Linked DNA regions of Homo sapiens: all the other regions are linked to region 3. Evidence: fine-mapped expression QTL. A gene starts in region 3. Each other region holds a variant in brackets. All regions are shown on one strand. Distances are from middle to middle.

Region 1 (5,457 bases), 150 kb after region 3:
CTCTTTGCCGTGTATGTGTGTGCGCACGCGCGCGTGTGTGAGTGTGCTGGGACTTTTTTCCTTGGTATATTCCCAGCCATGCCTCAGGATGTTTGCGTTCTCAGGGACCCCTGCTTCTCGGCTAGGCACCATGGCCTTAGCTAACTGCCTGGCCCTCAAGTTTCAAGCATTGAATATAACACCCTTAAGTAACCTGGTAGGGGACCCATCACACCACTGATAGATTAAAAATATAAATTTGGAAGTAGAGTCATTTGGACATGGTGAAAGATGATTTGAGACAGAGAGATATTAGAGGTATTAATAACTAAAGGGCAATTCAAAATATGGGCTACTGCTCATAGGAGACAGCTGGGCTAGATATAAATCTGGACATTAGGTGGTGTTAAAGCTACAGGACAGAGTAATGTCACTGTACTAATGATAGCAGAGTACAGAGAAATAAAGCCTAGGACAGAGAACTCTCGGGCAACAGAATAGCCAGTGAAATACTACTAAAAACAGGCAGGTAAATAGGGTTGAGGCACAAATGACAGGAAAAGAGAAGCAGTAGTCAATTGAGCCAGACACTAAGTAAAATGAGGAATGTGCACAAAAAGACAAATATTGTATGATTCCACTGATAGGAGGTATCTAATGTAGTCATCTTCGGGTCAGGCTTAGGAGGTATCTAATGTAGTCATCTTCGGGCTGGGTGTGGTGGCTCACGCCTGTAATCCCAGCACTTTGGGAGGCCAAGGCAGGCGGATCACTGGAGGTCGGGAGTTCGAGACCAGCCTGACCAACATGGAGAAACCCCGTCTCTACTAAAAACACAAAAATTAGCCAGGCGTGGTGGCACGTACCTGTAGTCCCAGCTATTCAGGAGGCTGAGGCAGGAGAATCGTTTGAACCAGGGAGGTGGAGGTTGCAGTGAGCCGGGATTGTGCCACTGTACTCCAGCCTGGGTGACAGAGTGAGGCTCCGTCTCCAAAAAAAGAATTAAAGTAGTCATCTTCATAGAAACAGTAGAATGGTGCTGGTTACCACAGGCTAGGGGGAGGGGGAAGGGGTAGTTGTTCAATGGGTATAGAGTTTCGAATATGCAAGATGAAAAACTTCTGGAGATCTCTTCCACAATAATGTGAACGTACTTCACACTACTGACTGTGCACTTGAAAATCGTTAAGATAGTAAGTTTCATGTTATGTATTTTTTACCACAGTTTTTAAAATGAGGAATGCAAATTGTCCATTGAATTTAGCCACAAGAAGGTCATCAGTGACCTTAGCAAGATGCAGTTTCATAGAGTGTTGGGGGTTGGGGTCTAGTTGAGATGGCTGAAGACTGACAGTCAAGTGAGTATAATGTTATTTCAGAGTCTGGCTGGTAAGTGGAACAGGAAAATAGAAAGTAAAGATAGTCTGTTGTTTTTAAGAGAAACTACTGCATTTTAAAAGAGGACACAAAGCATCCAGTAGAGAAGGAGAGATGGATTAATCGAGGCCACTGAGATTAAGGGAGGAGATGGAGTACACAGCATTAGAATGTTGCTCTTGGGCAGTTGTCCGGACTAGGGGATAGAAAAAGAATTCTTCTTACTGGTCCTACAGGATGGTAAGGATGGTAAATTAGTAGATGGACAACTCACACCTGATTTGCTGGACAGATTGTTCACAAGGGTCCGTAATGAACAAGTGCAGAGATGGTGCAGAAATAGACACAATGCATGAATAGCTCTTTGTTCATGTATCCTGAGAAAAGCAAGCCAAAAGGGAAAGACTTTATCTGGGAAAGAGGAAGTCTTCATAACCCTCTCTGGTGAGAAATGAAAACTCATTTAAGCAAGACAAGGCAGAAAATTTGGCTGCTGCAGATATGCTATTAATCAGAGCTTCCTCCAACCTAAAAGGAGTAAACACTGGGGAATGTCAGAATGAGAACAGATACTGATGTTTGTTCCATAGTAAATGAGGTAGTTTAAGATTTTGTCTTAAGTCAGGTTTTTAGAGTTTGGCTAAGCAATGAAGAGATAATCAATACGTGTAACACATGGGAAACTTCCCAAGTGCGTTTGCTTGGAAGATGACTTGGAGATCATCTTCAAAGGTATTTCATGATTTATATGAAATTTATTCTCAAATGGCACTCAGCTTTTTTCCAATCAGCATATTTCACGGAGATGTTGGAAGACTCAACTTCTCCAACTCACTCCCTTTTCTTTTTTTTTTTAATCTGTCCTGTGGTAATATGTAGATATTGATAATAATTTATAACCATATTTTCTTTTTTCCTGAAATATTTATAAATTTTTAATATTAAAATATTTATTTAAAGGTATTTTGGGAGCACTATTCATTTCTTTCAAGTTATCATGTGTCCACTTAGGCAAAAATCTGTTTAGTCAGAATTGTGACACAGTCTCTAGAAGGTACAAATACTTTTCAATTTACAAATATTGTGAATTCGTTATTTGGAAAAAATAAATTTCAAGCTTTTATTTCACAAATATTTGTTAACTTTATGGTAAGCACTTTGTTACACTTCATGTATATCAGTAACTATTGGTATCAGGGAGCTTCTAGTCTTCTGAGACTGTCTGGATTTAAACAAATAACGACACAAATTGTATAATAATAATAACAAATTATATGAGTGAAAAGTACAGACTGCTATGACAGCACATGACAGGGGCAGCTAAGGTGGCTTGGGGAATCAGGGAGGCTTCTGGGAGGAGGTGACATTTAAACTGAGGCCAGAAGGATGCCTTGGAGTTATCCCAGTGAGGGTGTGGTAGAACGAGGGCTGAGGACAGTGAGGAGTAGGAGACTGTGCAGAGGCCAGGAGGGGGATAGAAGCAGGGCCTATTTCAAAAAGAGATGGAAGGCCCAGTGGACTGGAGCAAGCCAAAGAGAGTGGACAAGCTTCATGACATAATGCTGAAGAACAGGTAGCCCAAGATCACCTAGAGCAGGGCTGGAAGGTCTAAGCAACAGACATGATGGCATTTGTATTTTTCAGAGTTCACTCTGGTAGCTGTGTAGAGAAGTTATTTTCTAGGACAGGGGTCAGCAAATTTTTTTCTGTAAAGGTCCAGATAGGAAATGTGCTAGATTTTTCAGGCCATATGGTCTGTCACAGTTAGTCAGTTCTTATATCATATGAAAGTAGCCATAGACATATGAAGAATGAACCTGGCTATGTTCCAATAAAGTTCCAATAAAACCTTATTTATGGATGCTGAAATTTGAATTTTATATAATTTTTGTGTGTCATTGTATTGTTATTTCGATTTTCTTAACCATTAACCATTTAAAAATATGAAAACTATTCTTAGGCCATACAAAGACAGGCAGGGCCTGAATTTGGCCAGCATGCC[G/A]TGGTTTGCTGACCCATGTTATGGTTCTTATATTTCTTAGTCTCTTAACCTTTCTGCTCTACCTCTTAATGTTTTAGTTCTATCATGACATTTTTCTTCAACTGTCTACGTTTTTTCAACACTCTGGTAAAGGTATGACTAATGTGAAATAAAAAACAGGAATATAACCTCTCCTTTCCTATTTTTTAATCCATTTGAAAATCAGTGTAACATGACTGACCATTCTATTTTTTTATCCACAGACTTTTTTTTTTTAATGGCTAATTTTGTATTTTTCCTGTTTTATTTTTCTTCCCAAAGTTTTATACTTGGTGCTTTCTTTTTTTTGAACTTAACATTGAGTTCTTCATTTTTTCTTTACCTGGCAATAGTTCTTCTAGAACTTACTTCTGGCATTCTATATAAAAAATAATACAGATATCAGAAAATTAAAGTAAAGAATACTCAAAACCCTACGATTGCATGCCACCATCTGTTGTATGAGCAGATAAAATAGTTTGTTTACATCAAGATACACAACATCCATATAACTTCAGATCTACAGACAGAACATTCTGACGTGAAACTTTTGGTTGCTTTCTTGTAGGACACTTTTAGGTAGCTGTCTCACAATGTTCTGGAAAACATTATATAGTGGAAATAATACAGGCAGACCTGGTCCAAATTCCACCTGGCCCTTACTAGATGTATGGTATTGGGCAACTTAATTAACTTCTTGGAGCCTAAGTTTTTTTAAAGCATTCAAAACACGTAGTCAGTGAATGGGAATTTCCACCTCCTTTTCCCCTGTAAGCGTAATATTTTATTACATAGAAGTAGCCATATTAAAGAATTTTGGGGGAAAACAGCCCATATTTTGTGGTGGCAGAAGTGTTGGGTTTTGTTTTAACCATTTGTAGATGTGAAGTAAAAGAAAACCAATAGTGTTCCCAAAATTGAACTAGTAGACATTTAAAAGATGGTATAGATGATAAATGTCTTTTGTACTTTTCATTAATATTTCCTTTGCCTTATATATTTTACTTCTGAAAACTTAGGTTTGACAGTGCTCTGGAAGACCTACCTAAGAGTGGACCTCACCCTCCTGCAACTCCTCAGGTGTTAACTATTGGTAGCCAAGTGGCCACACTTTCTAAAGTAGCAACTACTTATTCTAGGTAGACTCTTCCTTCTTGGTGTTTCTAAATTTCAAAGCTGGTAGTGAATTTAAATATACTAAACTGTTTGAAAAAGAAAAAATGATTGTTGATTACAGAACGGACATCATTAACCTATAGACAAGAAAGCTTGGCACTCAGCCTCAAAACAGCGCTTCTCACTGCTTTTATATTTTTATTTTTGTTTAGTTTATAACTTCTAATATAGAATCAAGAAATCTCTTTCATTTATTCACTTTGTGATTTGGAAAGTTAACTTGCTGGCTTTGTCATAAGTCTCCTTTTCTGAATTAGAGCATTTGCCTCAAAGACAGGTAAAGGTCATACACAATATGTTACCAGGTGCCCAGACATATTCTAAAGATACTCAGATAAGTAACTGCTTATGAGATATAACTAGATTCTGCTGATACTAAATCCTTTTCTATTATTTGTGATGCAATATGATGAAAGAAATTCATTACCGTTTCCTTTTCTTCCTGGAGAAGAAAAAATTAGCTGATTTATTTTTAAGTGATTTTTCAATATACTAAGTTTCTAGTTCTTATTATTCACCATTATGTCTCCAAATAGTAACCATTGTCTCAGAGATGCAGAGTAATGCAGAAACTCAGAAGTGGAATCACATGATAACTTTATTATTCCCTTTGACATTCATGTTACCTACCCTGCTCTGCCATTGATAACATCTTTCTTTTCTCTCTCCAGACCCTGACGTTTTCTTTTCTAACCATTCATTAACAGTTGTTAAAACTTAGCCATACAGTTTAATTTAATGGATAGACTTAGATAGACCAAAAGAAAAATTACTTAATTCTGTATCATTTTGAAAACATAGCTTGCAACTATTTCCTTAATTTTTTTTCTAATCGTTTTTGTAAAGTTATAGCCTGTGGAAATTGGAAGAATGACTTATCAAATTCTTTTGACAGGAAAAAGAGA
Region 2 (5,457 bases), 200 kb after region 3:
TTAATTAAATTTAACTGGTGTCATTATAAGAGGAAATTGAGACACTGACACATATTGAGGGAAGACCATGTGAAGACACATGGAGAAGATGGCCATCTATACACTAAGGGGAGAAGCCCTCTTGACATCTTGGTCTTGAACTTTAGCTTCCAGAACTGTGAGAAAATAAATTCTTGTTGTTGAAGCCACCCAGTCTGTGGTACTTTGCTAAGGCAGTCCTGGCAAACTAATTCAGTTTATAGTCTAATAAAAAATACAGACAAGCAAATCAACAACCAAATTAATATGGTAAGTCGAACAGAGATGCATCTAGGATTACATCAGTGCAAAAAGGAGAGGTAAGGATTATCCAACTTTAACAAACCAATTTATTTTATTTGAAAAGAATGGAAAGCAGTAAGGTTCAGAAGTCTATTCATAATCAAATGAATATTTTGTACAACAAATGTCCATTGAAAACTTCTATGCAAGTTACCATACTGGCACCATGGTATATATTTCTAGTCTACCCCGTGCTCACACCCGAATGATGGGTGTGACTGGAAGGAATCCCACAATCACACTAACCAGTCTCCTTTTAAATTCATCACTACTAATCTCAGGTATGTTCCTTCTTTTCCCTGGGTATATTCTTAATAGTAATGAAAGACTGCTGTTTCTCTAATATGTTTACTTTCCCACTTTCCCCAAAAAACCCATTTCACATCTTCTTTCTCCTCAAACTTCTAAAATCTCCTTTCCCATCCTCACTATTAGCTGATGACTTTGATTCCTCTTTCACTTTTTTATGTAGGAAAGGGAACAAAAAAGGCATACAACATAGAGAAAATAGATAGCAAAATGCCACTAATAAATCCTACTTTATCAGTAGGTTACATTAAACATAAATATATCACACACTCCAGCTAAAAGAGAGAGTGGAAGGGTAGATAAAATTATGATCTAACTATAAGTTGTCTACAAGAGACACAGTTTAAAATAAAAGATACAAATATGTTACAAGTAAAAGTATAGAAAAAAATATATTATGCAAATAGTAACCAAAAGAGAGTGAGAATGACTGTACTAATATCAGATAAAATCGATGTTAAGACAAAAAAAATTACTAGAGACAGAGTAGTACATTTTATAATGATAAAAAGCTCAATCCATTAAGAAAATGTGAGTTATAAACACATATTTACCTAACAGCATCAAAATAAGTGAAATAAAAACTGTCAGAATGGAAGGGAGTAATATATACAATTCAATAATAATAGTTGGAAACTTCAACACTCCATATTAATTAATAGATATAATTGATTACTGGTCAGAATAGCAAAAAGAACTAGAAAACTTGAACAACACTAAATACCAAGTATACTTCACCAGATATCTATAGAACATTCCACTCAGCAACAGCAGAATCCAGCAGAATATATATTCTTCTGAAGTGTATGTGGAACATTCTCCGGGATAGACCATATGTTAAGTCATAAAACGAGTTTCAATAAATTTAAAAGGACTGAGATCATACAAAGTATGCTCTCTGACCAGAATGGAATGAAATTAGAAATCAATAACAGAAGAAAATTTGGGAAATTCACAAATATGTAGAAATTAAAAAACACATTCCTTAAACAACCAGTGGGTCAGAAAAGAAATCACAAGGGAAACTAGAAAATACTTTGAGCTGAATGAAAATGAAAATGTAATATACCAAAACTTATTGAATGCAGCTAAAGCAGTGCTTAGATGGAAATTGATAGCTGGCAAATGTCTGCATTCAGAAGGAAGAATCATCTCAAATCAGTAACATTGCCTTCTACCTTAAGACTCTAGAAAAAGATCAAACTAAGTCCAAAACTTAGAAGGAAGGCAAGAACAAAGATTACAGCAGAAATGAATGAAATCGAGAATTTAAAAAAAATCAATGAAACCACAAGTTGGTTCCTTGGAAAGATCAACAAAATTGACAAACATTGGCTAAACTACCAAGAAAAAAAAAAAGAAGACTCAAATTACTAAAAATGACACTAAGGTGTCTCACAGGTTTTTGTTTTTTGTTTTGAGACTGAGTCTCACTCTGTTGCCCAGGCTGGAATGCAGTGGCAGGATCTCAGCTCACTGCAGCCTCCACCTCCCAGGTTCAAGGGATTCTCCTGCCTTGGCCTCCTGAATAGCTGAGGCCACAGGCCTGCACCACCATGCTCGGCTAATTTTTGTATTTTTAGTAGAGACAGTCTGGCCTCGAACTCCTGGCCTCAAGTGATCCGCCCGTCTCGGCCTCCCAAAATGCTGGGATTATAGGCGTGAGCCACCGCACCCGGCCAGTGTCCCACAGTTTCTGTGTCATGAGTCTATGGGTTAGCTGAGTACCCTGCTCAGAATCGCACCAGGCTGAAATCATGGTGTCAGCTGAGCTGAAGTTATCATGTAGAGATCCAGATCTTCTTCCAAGCCCACGCAGGTTGTTGGGCAAATTCAGTTCCTTGCAGCTCTGGGACTGACGTCCTTATAGGCCGTCCCCACCTTAGACAGTTCACAACATGATTGCTTTCTTCCTCAGGGCCAGCAGTAGAGCCTCTCCTGTTGCTTTTTAACTTCTTTTAAGGGTTTACCTGATTAGGTCAGGCCCATCCAGGATGATCTGTCTTTTGATTAACAGTATCCACTGATTAGGGGATGTAATTGTTTTTTTTTGATTTTGGTTTTGGTTTTTTTTTGAGACAGAGTCTCACTCTGTTGCTGACGCTGGAGTGCAGTGGCGCAATCTTGGTTCACTGCAACCTCCGCCTCCTGGGTTCAAGCGATTCCCCTGCCTCAGCCTCCCGAATAGCTAAGACCACGGGCACGTGCCACCATGCCCAGCTAATTTTTGTATTTTTAGTAAAGACGAGGTTTTATCATGTTGGCCAGGCTGGTCTCGAACTCCTGGCCTCAAGTGATCCGCCCGTCTCAGCCTCCCAAAGTGCTGGGATTACAGGCGTGAGCCACCATGCCTGG[C/T]CTAGGGGATGTAATTGTATCTGCACAATCCTTTTTGCTATTTACAGTTATCTAATCACAGGAGTGATACCCTGTCATGGCCACAGGTTCTACCCACACTCATGGAGAGGGTCTTTACTCAAATATCAGAGTGTTCCTGGTCACCTATTTAAATTCTCCCATTTCATCCCTACTTCCTACCTATACCATCTTCCTCTCTGCCCTCCCTGCTTAATTTTTCTTGTCAGCCTTTAATATCTAACATGCCATATATTTTATTTATCTTACTGTCATCTCCCTGCCCTATGTTAGCATATAAGTTCCATGCAATCAGGGCTTTTTTTGGCTTTGTTCCCTGCCAGATTTCCTGTTTCTAGAACAGTGCCTAGCACATATTGCATTTAGTAAAGTCTTGCTCAATTGATAGATGAACTTTTAAATATTTGTAGAATGTATATTAGTGTTGCCAAATTGAAATTATATCTCACTTGTCTTATTATTGAATTACATTTATCCTGCTTTGCAGATTTTATAATAATCTCAAAAAGAATTGACTGTAGTTGTCTCCAGTAGACTTTTAAAAAATTGTCAATTAAGGTTACCTTCTTTAGAACTTGTTCTCTTTATTTACTATTATGTTTAAACTCATTTTACCTGTGCATTTATTTTGGAGAAGCAAGTCATTTATGCCTTTCAGATATAAAACTATAGGTGGCCTCACAACCCTTTAAATGTAGTATGTTAAAGGACTGAAAGTTAAAGTTGACATTCAGCGAAAGAATTACTTTTTAATGTTCCAAATTGGAAAGTTTGCATATAATCCACTGGAAATGAAGAATTAAGAGTGACAAATACAGTGTTTCCAAATTTTAGGAAGGATTGTTAATGTCTGCAGTTTTGAGTATTCTAAGACGATAGTCACTGTGTTTCTCTTTTACTCTCTTCCTGCTTGTGTCTTTGTGTGTAATCGTTTGTGAATGTATTTATGTGCAGTTTCTCCTGATTATCTTGTTCCTATTTCACTCTATTCCTGTGGCTGTGTTGTTCTTTTGCCCTTTGCTCACGCCAGGCCCTTCCTCAATGTTGGCAAATACAAAAACATAAAAGTGGTTTGTACATTTGTATTAGTATATTTAACTAAGTAGAATATCAGATTCTGTTTTTATTCTTGAGCACGTCAGTTTTTTTATAGCTTTGGGAAACTTGTTTTTTACTTCTATTGATACAGTAATTTTCAGTCGAATAAAATCTGTTGTGGTTGGGCTTTGAAAAATTCCAGTATTACAGTTAGTTCGTCATCCATATGATCTTAGGAAAGTTGGCTGATTTCTCTGACGTTTTCTTCATCTACACGTATATGAAAAAGTTAATTTCTGTCATTGGGATTATTGTGAGAATTAAATAACAAAGAGCAGCAAAAAATAAGCATCAGATTTTGAGGCTAAATCCCAGTTAGGTTGTGCCTGTTGAAATCTGAGTTCCTTTCACCTTTGTATTTGTAAGCTTTCCTTTTTCTCTGAACTCTTCCTTGGCATCCTTCCCTACCTTTCCTTTCTTCCCCCCACATGCCCCGCCTTTTTGGATAGGTCTCACAGAAGATAAACAGGGTGAAAAGTTTCATGCCGTAGCTCTTCTCTCACAGCCAACCAAATGCTTTAAATCCCTCCTCTCCCTCCATTTGTCAGTCAACATGTACTTAGTAAGGGCTCACAGGACATCGAATACTAGAAGAGATAGCTGAATACTTAATTCCACTCTGCAGTTATCTAGGCCTGTCATTCCTGTTCACAAATGGAAACCCAATCCTACCTGGAACAAGAAGAACTTCTTTAGTGTTAATCCTGTGTTAATGAATTTGTTAAATTAGTCTTTGCTGACACAGAGAAGAAAACACTTTGCTATATGTGAAAGATTAATTTTATTGTTTAATCTGTGCATAATTTCAAGGGCATTGATGGAGAAAGATGCTCTTTCAGGACAGCCAAGAAGTATCAAGTTAGGCCAGTAGTTGCCCTGAGCATGCTTGTTTAAGAAAGGAGATCTGAGAGGAGCAAGGGTCATTTTCAGCTTGTTTTTTAAAGGTGCAGTGGGAATTTCTTTACTGTCTAAAATTCCTTTTGCTATTTGAAAGGAACTAATGAAATATTTTAAAGTCATCCTTTTAATGGACTGTAGTTTTAATTTATGTATTTATAGTGAACTATATTCCAGCAAGTTTGTAAAAAGACTTTTACAGGTATGTGAAATATAAGATAATCTTATAAATTACAAAAGGGGAAAAAGAATGAAATTCATCGATAGGCTCGTTAAAAATGAAGCTAACGTCGAGACTGGACGATACTAAAATAATGACCTGCCCACTTGCCTCTGGTTAGACTGTAAATCTGGCTTTAGGCCTTCTAGTAGTCTACCAAAAATGAAAGGTAGTTTTGCAATTTACAATAAGATAAAAATAAGACTACTGCTGAGGAAAAGCATAATAGTTCTTGCTGC
Region 3 (5,457 bases):
AGCAATACAAATAGCTGGGACCTGGGACTACAGGCACACTACACGACGCCCAGCTAATTTTTTGGATTTTTTTAGAGATGGGTCTTGCTATGTTGCCTAGGTTAACCTCAAACTCCTGCCCTCAAGCCATCTTCTCACCTCAGCCTCCCAAGTGCTAGGATTATAGGTGTCAGCCACTGCACCCTGCTCACGTAAGTAATTTTAAATTATCTAGTGGCCACATTTTTTTTAAAAAGTGAAATTAATTTTAATCAAATATTATTATTATTACTCTTTTTTTTTTGGTGCGGAGTCTTGCTCTGTCGCCCAGGCTGGAGGGCAGTGGCATGGTCTCGGCTCACTGCAACCTCTACCTCCCGGGTTCAAGTGATTCTCCTGCCTCAGCCTCCCAAGTAGCTGGGATAACAGGCATGCGCCACCACACCCGGCTAATTTTTGTATTTTTAGTAGAGACGGGGTTTCGCCATGTTGGCCAGGCTGATCTTGAACTACTGACCTCAGGTGACCCACCCGCTTCAGCCTCCCAAAGTGCTGGGATTATAGGCGTGAGCCGTCGCGCCCGGCCATAATCATGTATCATTTAACAAAACATAAAATATGATGATTTCAGCATATAATCAATATAAAAATTATTGAGGCATTTTACATTATTTTTTCATACCAAGTCGTCGAAATCCAGTGTGCATTTTACACTTCCAACGCATTTCAATTTGGGCATTATATTTTCAACTTTAGTCCTTAAATGTAGTGCTTAAAAGAAATGTTAACGACCTGGCGCGGTGGCTCATGCCCGTAATCCCAGCACTTTGCGGGGCCGAGGCGGGTTGGTCACCTGAGGTCAGGAGTTCGAGATCAGGCTGGCCAACATGGTGAAACCCCATCTCTACTAAAAATACAAAAAATTAGCCGGGCGTGGTGGCGCACGCCTGTAATCCCAGCTACTCAGGAGGCTGAGGCAGGGGAATCGCTTGAACCCGGGAGGTGGAGGTTGCAGTGAGCCGAGATTGCACCACTGATCCCAGCCTGGGAGACAGAGCAAGAATCCGTCTCAAAGAAAAAAAAAGTAAAGAAATGTTATCCTGCTTCAGTTTTAAATGTTAAATTATTTAAAATTACGTAAAACAAAAAATTCATGGTCTCAGTTACAGTAGCCACATTTCAACTGTTCGATAGCCACATGTGGCCAGTGGCTACCGTTAGGGAAAGAGCAGCTTTGGATCTTCGCCTTTGGAATTTTGCTTGCACTTCTGGGGGCCGGGGAGCTCACGGACCTCATGAAGTTCATCCTTGCTTTATATGCTCCTTGGTTAAGAATTGTCCTTTTCACGTTTTATAAGCCAATTCACAGTGTAACAGTCTAGTTACTTTCCGTATGTTCAGTGAACATTATTCACGTTTTCTTATGAATAAATTCCTCGGGCGTATCAAGCAACCCTATAGAAGGCTGGAAAGTGGACTATTGATTTGGATTTAGAAAAATAAACTGAAGATACAGTGGTTGAATCACTTTTGGCCGCTTTTATGTATCACTGTCTTCTGGTGTGATGGACAGGGTTAACTTCTGTTAGGGTTACTGGTTTTCACCTTCCTGACAGGTAAACTTCTGGGTCTGCACTTTTCAGAGCATGTAAAGCTCTTTCAAAAAAAAAAACGCAGGCAGTAACCGCTGAACTTGCATAGATAGAGATTTATCCAAAGTACCCTTCTATTTTTAGGCAGAGCAACTGCTTGCCAATTTAAATTTCTGGAGAGAAAAATGCACCCACTACAAAACGGACGAGCGGAGGGTTAGACCTTTGCCAGGTAGCGCTCAAAATCCGCTAAGACTACTCCCACCGAAACTCGGTAGCGCAGTTGTCTTTCCGCAGCTGCTTCAGCCAGCCCCAGCAAGCCCGAGCGCCCGGCGCCGCCGCCACCTTCCCCGCCCCTGCGCGGCGCGGCTGGGACTGGCCCAGAGGCGTGGCCGGGAGCGGAGGGGCGTGTCCTGGGTCGGGGGTGGGGCGAGGGAGAGCCAGGAGGCGGAAGTTCCCGCGGGCGGTGGGGACGGCGCCCTCACCGCGAGTCACTTGTCAGCCCTTGTCTGAGGCGGAGGCAGCCCCGCGCCGCGCCGGACCCGAGGTGAGTGGCGGCCGGCCGGCGATGCGCCTCTCGGATCTCCGGTGGGAGAAGGGAAAGAACCGGCCGCTGTGCGCCGAACGCGAGAAGGGAAGCCCGGTTGGGGACGAGGAGGGGGCGCTCCTCGGGCAGGGATGGCTCCTCAGGTGCTTTCTGGGCGCGGAGCGGCGGAGGTGGGAGAGCAGCTTGGGAAAAGGAGCGCCCGGAAAAGGGCAGCGCTGGAGTCCGCATGAGGCCAGAGGGCGAGCCCTGGGGTCCCCGCAGCCCGGGCCGACCGGGACCAGCGTAGCGGAGACGGGGACGCGGGAGGGCGCCCGGAGGTGGCGAGGGCCGGCAGGGACGGGCACTGCCGCTCCCACCCACCCGGCTGCCGGCGTCGCCCGGCACCACCGTGGTGTGGTGTCTGAGTGCCCAGTCCTGCGCCAGTCTCTTGGAGGGTAGGAAGCGGGACTCAAAGGAAAAGGCGCGTTAGTTTTTCTTTGCTCCCAGGCTACTGAGAAGCATTTATTTCTCCCCCAGATATTTACAGTTTTGTGTAACCTGTTTGGGGAAAACTTCTGCGCGTCCAGAAATAAAGCTCGTTTAAGAAACACATTTGTCATGAACACGAGATTTGTTAACACTTGAGTACTTGTTGGGGCTTTTGTAAGACTGTGCCTTCGGTGCGTTTTACAATAAGTGGAAAAAGGAAGGGCGTGTGGACAGGGCAGAGCTTGGAAGGAAAATTCGTGGCGGCGCTGGGCAGGGCAGATTTAGGGTGTGATCGCCAGATCCTATCCCAAGTCCGCCTTCCTGACGGGGAGGACGTCTGAACCCGCCTGCCACGGAAACGGCCCGTTCGGTAGCCTTATTTGGCCAACAAGGCTAGGCGCGAATCCCTCCTGGAAAACTGTCCTGTCGGCTGCTTTCATCCTGTGCCTGTGGCTTTAGTTCTTCAGCTCTACCTACATTCTCTCTCCATTGCGGGGAAAGAGAATCTCAAGATATTTCTCTTTAATTTCAGGCCTTTTTTTTTGTCACTCTGTGTAGTTCATCTTGAGTTCTCCTTTCTCCCCTCTCACCCACTAATGAAGCTGAGATACAAGTGTGGGAAATACCAAGCTTCCTTCCCTAGTACTAGAGCAAAGACATTGTTTAGACTTTCCCTAAAAGAAAATCCATAACTCTACAGAAATTCCAACCTTTTCGACGTGTTTGAAAGAGTATGCTGCTATTTCCTGCCTGCTTGGTATTTGAGGAAGGGCTTGGGCACTAATAACCAGATGGAGGAGTCTTGGAAAGGCCAATAAAAATATTGCCATTGCTTGGGGCAGAGACTGTTTTAAGGCAGATGAATTCCAAATGAAGCTAGCAGAAGAAGCATCTAGAAATGAACGGACAGTGACTAGAAATGAAATGACACTGGTTTTGTAGTGTGGCTGTGACCTTGCCAGTGCTAGGAATTTTAATAACAAATGAGAGAAGTTAGGAAGGGAATCCCCAAGTAAAGGGAAGTTGCAAGTACATGGGTTGATAATCTAAATGAAATACATTTTCTTGTAGGGAAGAATGGGGCCAGAGGAAGTTGAGCCCAACTTTCATATTATTCCCCAGACACAAGTTAAAGATTAATAAAGGAGGGCAGGCTGCCTGTGAAATATCAGTTGGCTTTACACGATTCTGATTTGTATCGTGTCAATATCAGGACAGTCCTTCTATTAGTTTTCTGAAAATCTCCTCCTTTTATAGCGGGAAAGCAATTGAATTATGTGTGGCTCGTTATTAGCTTCCCACTAGTAGTTTTTCACCTATATATACAGTTTGACTTCCGGCTTGGCCTTTGGATCTTTTTTAGTGCTCTGTGCCTATTACTTCATTACTGAAGTAATGTGTTATTGCCTTGTAGTTCAGTATACTACCACGCCAGTAGAAAAGCTGTTTCGGTTTCTGATACAATTTTCTGTAATTTTTATTTTCCCTGATATAATTTTTCTTTAAAAACCAGGCTTATTTGAATGTTTTGCCCCATTTTCCCTTTATGAGAAGAAGGAATGTTTGCTTTAAATATACCTATGGCTCAAATATCTATATCTGCAACTATGAATTTGGGGTGATGGGCTAGAAATTTTGAATGGGTTAAAACATATTTTAAGACAGGTAATATTAGGTGGTGATTTGGTTGAATAGCTTACATTTTCCAAGGAAGTATGTTTTTAATATAAAATTACATATCTGTTATGTTTTTAATATTTTTTAAAGAGAGAGAATTATTGTTTCTTAGTATTCCATTAAAACAAAAGAAAACTTCATTCCTCTGTCTCCTGCCGTTATAACAACCAATAGGAAACTCGAAGTTTTTTTTTTTTTTTTTGCTTTTTAAAAATTATATGAAAGTACTACTAGGAGAGTCATCACACGCACACTTAACAGCAGAACAGACAAAAGAAAGCACCGAAGCACTGGTTCTTTTCTAAACTGCCAATTCCATTTGAATGCATTAACCCAGCACTTTTGCTGTATTTAGTCATAATCTTATTCACTGAGTGGCAAATGCTTACTCTCTGCCTGGTGAGGTGTGTGTATAAAACAAAAAGCAGGTTGTGACTAACATCACTGTACTAGAGTATTGCCTATCGTTGACTATCTGAAGGAAAAGTAGATATCACTTTAAGTGTGGAAAATACCATGTCCCCATAGGAGGAAATACAAGTTGTAGTTCATGATTGGAGAGAATAGTTTTGTGCATTGAAAAACAGCTTCTCATTGTAAAGAATTTAGTATTTGGAAAGCATGAATGGGAGCCTACTGATTTGCAGTCTCTTTCACATGTTAGAGTAACTTAGAATTTAAGTAAGTGCAGTTGAAAGACTCTTGTCAATTGCAGACAAAAGAATACATGAAGTGGAGGGAAGGAGAAAATTATTCTGAATTCAACCTGAAATAAAATCTTGCTACATTAGTGAAGTATTGTAAAGTACTTTGAGTTAAACTTTGCATGCAAGAAGCCACAAAATTGGATTGAAGCAAGTTGTGAAACATACTAAGTGTCTAGAAATGTATTCTGATATGGAATTTTTAGACCATGGAAATTGCCATGAGTGTAGAAAATTTATATTAGCTCACAGATTGCTTTTCTTAAACTGAAATTAATGAAGAACTTAATTAAGACTTATCTTCTATATCCTCTCACCCCCCTCAAACAAAATACTAAACATAATTTATGTTCTAGGGTTTCAAGTAAACATTTTTGCTAATCATCTGATTTTCTTTCACAGCATATTTCATTTTCTGTCATTGGACTTTGAGCCATTAGAACCATGAGCAACTACAGTGTGTCACTGGTTGGCCCAGCTCCTTGGGGTT
Region 4 (5,457 bases), 210 kb after region 3:
TTCCTTGTTAGGTAGTTATGAGTAAATCTGCAAAAGGCAATGAAAATGCCTTAAATTTTATCAATAACAGAATTATTGTATTTAAAAAAAAACTAATACTTATCTTTAAAATAGTAAATAGGATTTTAAACAGAGAATTTTATCAGTAATAGGTGTCAGTTTTTAAAAAATTGCTTGTAGGCTGAGCGCGGTGGCTCACGCCTGTAATCCCAGCACTTTGGGAGGCCAAGGTGGGTGGACCACATGAGGTCAGGAGTTTGAGATCAGCCTGGCCAACATGGTGAAACCCCATCTCTACTAAAAATACAAAAATTAGCCGGACGCAGTGGCACGCGCCTGTAATCCCAGCTACTCAAGAGGCTGAGGCACGAGAATCACTTGAACCCGGGAGGGAGAGGTTGCAGTGAGCCAAGATCGTACCACTGCACTCCAGCCTGGGTGACAGAGTGAGACTCTGTCTCCAAAAAAAAACTTTGCTTGTATATTATTTTTGCCTTACAGTGGATCATTCTAGTAGGAAAGGACAATAAGATTTTTTATCAAAATGTGTCATGCCAGTAAGAGATGTTATATTCTTTTCTCATTTCTTCCCCACCCAAAAATAAGCTACCATATAGCTTATAAGTCTCAAATTTTTGCCTTTTACTAAAATGTGATTGTTTCTATTCATTGTGTATGCTTCATCACCTATATTAGGCAAATTCCATTTTTTTCCCTTGTGCTAAGGTAAAGATTTAATTAAATAATTTTGGCCTCTCATAGTTTTCTCTCTCTTTAAAGAGAATAAATAGAGGGCCAGGTGTGGTGGCTCACGCCTGTGATCCCAGCACTTTGGGAGGCCAAGACGGGCGGATCATGAGGTCAAGAGATCAAGATCATCCTGGCCAACATGGTGAAACCCTGTCTCTACTAAAAATACAAAAATGAGCTGGGCATGGTGGGGCGTGCCTGTAGTCCCATGTACTTGGGAGGCTGAGGCAGGAAAATTCTTGAACCCAGGAGACGGAAGTTGCAGTGAGCTGAGATCACACCACTGCACTCCAGCCTGGTGACAGAGCAAGACTCCGGCTCTTAAAAAAAAAAAAAAAAAAAAAAAAAGAGAGAGAGAGAATAAATAGAAAAGAATGTGGCTGGGAATTGTGAATCAGAAGATTATACCCCCCAATTGTTTTTCAATCCCCTTTTCTCAAATAATAAATTAGTTAAATCAGTTTCTGAGTTATGCCACTGGCTGATGAAGAGTTGAGAGGTCTCTTTGCAGAATGATCTTTTTGTTTCGTTTTGTTTCTTCTTCTGCATTTAAAAATTAAAAGATTGGTTTGAGGATGTGATGAAATTGAGACTTTTTGTGGTTTTCTCTCAATAATAAGTGAACCAATTTCAAATGTGATCACAAAGTTTGGAAAGCTTTTATTCACAGAGGTTGGGTAGTGTTGGGAGGGGAGTTTAATTACTCAGATTGGCCTGTTATTTGATTTCCTCCTTTGGGAAAAGAATTATGTAGATACCACATGGAGACAGGGAAACAATTGTGGTAAAACTGTGGATCCTGTTGCTATTTGCCCAGTGAGAAAACAGATTCTGGTATTTGATTTGGTTTTTCTCTTTGTTTCCAGAATGGATGAAAGTCCATGAACCTCCTAAGTTATAATTTAAATTTGTTTGGGGCAAGGTGATTTTATAGTCGAGACAGAGCCCTAGGTCCTTCCTGCCCCATCACTCACTTACGACATCACTTCCATTGTGTGCATGTTTGTTATAGAGGAGGTTTTAGGCTACAATATTTGTTTAACCTCCCTAAGAACTTTCAAGGCATCTGTCCTGAAAGCTGTTAATTTATGGTCTAGCAGATTTATATTATATGCAGATAATAATTAACTGGGGATAAAAGAATGGCAAGGGGTGACACAAAGTAGCAAACTGAATACTTCTCCAATAGCAACCCCAAGCTACCTCCTCACCCTGCATCTTGGAGGGAGGCAGGAAATTTCTTTTGAAATAAAGTGCTGGAGCTGAATTCTGCATTATTTATCGTTGCTGCTGAAACCACCTATAAAAGACTTGCTGGCTAATGTGCATTGTCATATAATGTACACTGTCACATCTTTACAGTCTTGTATGTTATAGAATACAAAATAAGTTGATGGTTTTGTTTGGTGTGAGCTTTTTGTTTGTTTGTTTAGTTTTGCCTTCATAGGTTATATGCCAAGATAGTATTTGATAAGTCAATGACATTTGGATGTTTTCTTCAAAGAATTTTATTTGACCCAGATTTCTTATAAAGTTATCTTACATTAAGGATGTCATTTTCATCAGACCTTCTTTCTACATATTATTCATGAAGCATAATGTTGCATTTCTCCAAATTTTATGCCTGAAAGGGTAGTGTTGCTTCCTAAGGTATCATGTTGTCTTTGTGCTTTGTCCATCTCTTCCGTGGCGAAGCTTTATATCTGTTCCTAAAACAGTTAATCCTGTGAAATAAATATTGAACATAATCCAGAAGAATCTCTCTGTTTCCCTTGGGGAATGCCATATTTAATTCACCAGCAGTAATCCTTTAATAACTGGCAGAGCACTTTATTCTTCTGGTGAGCT[C/G]CCTGAATATTTATTTTTCTGATTATAAATTTTCTATATTAGTAGCATTTTTTAATTATTACTTCTTCACTATAGAGCATTTACTTTTAGTCTCTAGATGTATATTTTGGAATGCTGTACTTGGCATAACATAGATTAAAATCATAATGCATGACTAAAAACTCCTTGGATTTATTTCCCATTTTAAAATTTTTAGCGGTAAGTTCAGATTTATAATCTTTCTCTAGACTTCCATGGTCTGAATGTTGCCTGCTGAAGTAGCAACCTAAAAAGTATCCCCTGCTTATGCTTGTCCAGTTGGCCCTCCATGTCCATAGGCTTCGCATCTGTGATTCAGCCCACTGTGGGTCAAAAATATTTGGGGAAAAAAATGGATGGTTGCGCCTTTGCTGAACATGTACAAACTTTTTTTTGTCATTAAACAATATAGTATAACAACTATTTACAAAGCATTTACATTGTATTAGCTATTATAGGTAATCTAGAGATGATTTAAAGTGTATGGTAGGATGTGCATAGGTTATATGCAAATACTACACCATTTTCTATAAGGGACTTGAACATCATGGACTTTAGTATCCTAGGGGGTTCTTGGAACCCATCACCCATAGGGGCACCATAGGACAACTATAGTACCGTGTTTATTTCCTATTAATTCAGGTTCCGTTTAGAGTCTAAAACTAAAACCTAATCATTTAGTCACAGTGTAAAAACAAATGGAAATAACAGCTCAAATCTTCAAAATATTACTATAGCATTATGTTTAAAATAATCTACAACAAAAATGTACCATTTTCAAGCAGTACTACATTAGGAGCCCTTTTATAGAAAATAATTTCTTCTTTACCCCCGTTCCAGTGTGAATCTAGTATTCTGTTAACATTTGTGTGGCATTTGGAGTTTGTCATCCCCATTGAAGGGAGAGCCTTCTCAGACATGAAGCAAGGGAAACATACTGAATAGTTTTACACAAATTTGATCTGGCTTCCATTTGTCCCCCTCATTTCCCAAATGTTTAAATGTATTGGATTTGGATTCTCAATGTATAAGTTGCCTTATCTGTTAATGTCTATCTTCTGTCTCTTTAATTTTGTATATCTGCTGTTTTGCTTTTGGATACATTTTCTAATTAGAAGTCACATGATAAATATAATCAGTATAGTAATAATACCATAATGTGCACATACTCAATAAATAAATGACTGCATTGTTGTAAATGAGCTCTCCTTTTTGTTGTTGTTGGTTGGCGAGTGGTTTCCATCAAGTCATCATGGGAAAATAATCAAGTTCCATATTCACAGGTTAGGATAGGATGTAATAATTCTCAGAAGAACCCTTCTAGTATGATATTTGCTTATCAAAATGTCTCAGAAACAAAATATTTGAAAATACTGTCACATTTATTGTATTTCTCTCTGTTCTTATGCCGTGCATGTAGAATGTACCCAATGTTTATGAATTAATAGATAAATAAGGTCTATTGTCTTTTGAAAATATTTATTGCTGAAATGATTTATTGGAACAACCTGTCATATCAAACATCATATTAGAACATAATCAAAGAACATAAATCATCATCCATATTTCCACATTTTGCATTAGATATTGGGATGCTTAACTCATCTCAATCTCATTAACTGACTATTCCACAACTAGGTAGGCTCACCTCTGCCTCATTTGTTTATTAGTTTAAGATATTTTTCCAACTGTATAAAGTTAAGACAGATGTTTCTGTTGCACGCTCTATGTTGGGAATAAAAGAGAAATTCAAGTCTATTTGCTCACAGTATATTAAACTCCAGAAGCCAAACTTTTAAGAGCATCAAGTCTGCATCTGACATTTTAATAGCTGCTGTTTGGTTTCTATCAATCACGTCATTGCACATTAAAATGCACCGACAAAATAAGAGATCTGTCATTCCTTCGTTAAGAAACAGTAATCCAGTACAAGATTTATAGGCTTAAGTCTCAACCGTGTGTTCACAATAAATCCCCATTCAGTGCTCAAACCAGAGCAAGCCTCCCTGTCGTTCAGTGTTTTCTAGTCGAAATGTCCCCAATATAAGATTATCAAAGGTTTTCTTACAGAACTACATATAAAATCCTTTTGCCAGCAAAAGCTTAATTTGGATTGGCGGTTTCCCTTTTTGGGTATGCTCAGACAAGATCTTGGTTATATCAGAAACACATAGGTACTGATGTATTATTAGCAGGCCTGGTGTTAATTAGGGAGAATTACCAGAAATAGTTTGCTTCGTGGAAATTTATTGCAGAATCACACTTGACTGATGGCAGAATAGGAGTTGCTGAGAGAGAGCAGCTCCCACTCATAACCACTAATTAATAGGGTGCCAAAATTCCGCAGAGAAAGTTTCATCCCAAGTGTGGGAGCCTCCCAGGGAAAATGGTTCTTTTGCAGTATTTAAAATTTAACAGAGGAAAGGTGCTAGGACACATGGCTACCTAACAGAAATCTCAGACTGATATGGTTTTGTGTTGTACGTATGAATGAGAGGATTTAACTCAGTAAGTACCGGGCCCAAATGTTGCCTGTGTATTTATCGTATATGGAGATATGCATATTATTTTTAATGCGGCAAGTGCCTGATTTGCCAAACTATTCATTTTCTGAGGAGAATTTACAGGACTGTATACCATTTGTCTATAGTATTATATTACAGAACTTTTGATTCTGTGATTTAGAATCTGTCTGGGTAGGTGGCAAGATTGCATCAATGATTAATAAGAAAGGTGTAGCCTTCATACCTTGAACACAGGGTTGGGGAAAAGTGAGATGCATTTTGTGATTTTCGCTAAAGGTAGAGCACTAGGGGAGCCCTTTTAAATAGAAGTTTGCCA

Alleles and levels. Alleles are on the strand shown, and positions count from the first base shown. SD is a standard deviation of normalised expression in the study named. Not every link is listed here.
With allele A in place of G in region 1, the expression in monocytes of the gene that starts at base 2,065 in region 3 is lower (moderate effect, 0.52 SD a copy in Fairfax 2014).

What was found. PIP is the estimated chance that this variant, and not a neighbour inherited with it, causes the effect. A credible set is the group of variants that fine-mapping cannot tell apart.
Region 1: its variant is the best candidate, but not a certain one, in a credible set for the expression of PDLIM5 in monocytes (Fairfax 2014, PIP 0.52).
Region 2: its variant is the best candidate, but not a certain one, in a credible set for the expression of PDLIM5 in whole blood (TOPMed, PIP 0.85).
Region 4: its variant is the best candidate, but not a certain one, in a credible set for the expression of PDLIM5 in monocytes (TOPMed, PIP 0.54).

What each region holds. Positions count from the first base shown.
Region 1 is chr4:94,603,664-94,609,120 of GRCh38, forward strand. The region is part of intron 7 of PDLIM5 (PDZ and LIM domain 5); the gene reads left to right. Among named protein-coding and RNA genes, the nearest start is that of BMPR1B-DT, 150 kb to the right of the region's middle. The variant G/A (reference allele first, on the strand shown) is at 3,359.
Region 2 is chr4:94,646,289-94,651,745 of GRCh38, forward strand. All of the region lies in intron 9 of PDLIM5 (PDZ and LIM domain 5), which reads left to right. Among named protein-coding and RNA genes, the nearest start is that of BMPR1B-DT, 110 kb to the right of the region's middle. The variant C/T (reference allele first, on the strand shown) is at 2,986.
Region 3 is chr4:94,449,878-94,455,334 of GRCh38, forward strand. PDLIM5 (PDZ and LIM domain 5) reads left to right here and starts at 2,065. Exons shown (of 13, transcript NM_006457.5): 1 at 2,065-2,118; 2 at 5,370-5,457. The coding sequence starts at 5,412. RefSeq lists silencers at 1,715-2,134, 2,305-2,564.
Region 4 is chr4:94,664,409-94,669,865 of GRCh38, forward strand. It overlaps PDLIM5 (PDZ and LIM domain 5), which reads left to right. Exons shown (of 13, transcript NM_006457.5): 13 at 1-3,815. Among named protein-coding and RNA genes, the nearest start is that of BMPR1B-DT, 90 kb to the right of the region's middle. RefSeq lists an enhancer at 3,886-5,457. The variant C/G (reference allele first, on the strand shown) is at 2,599.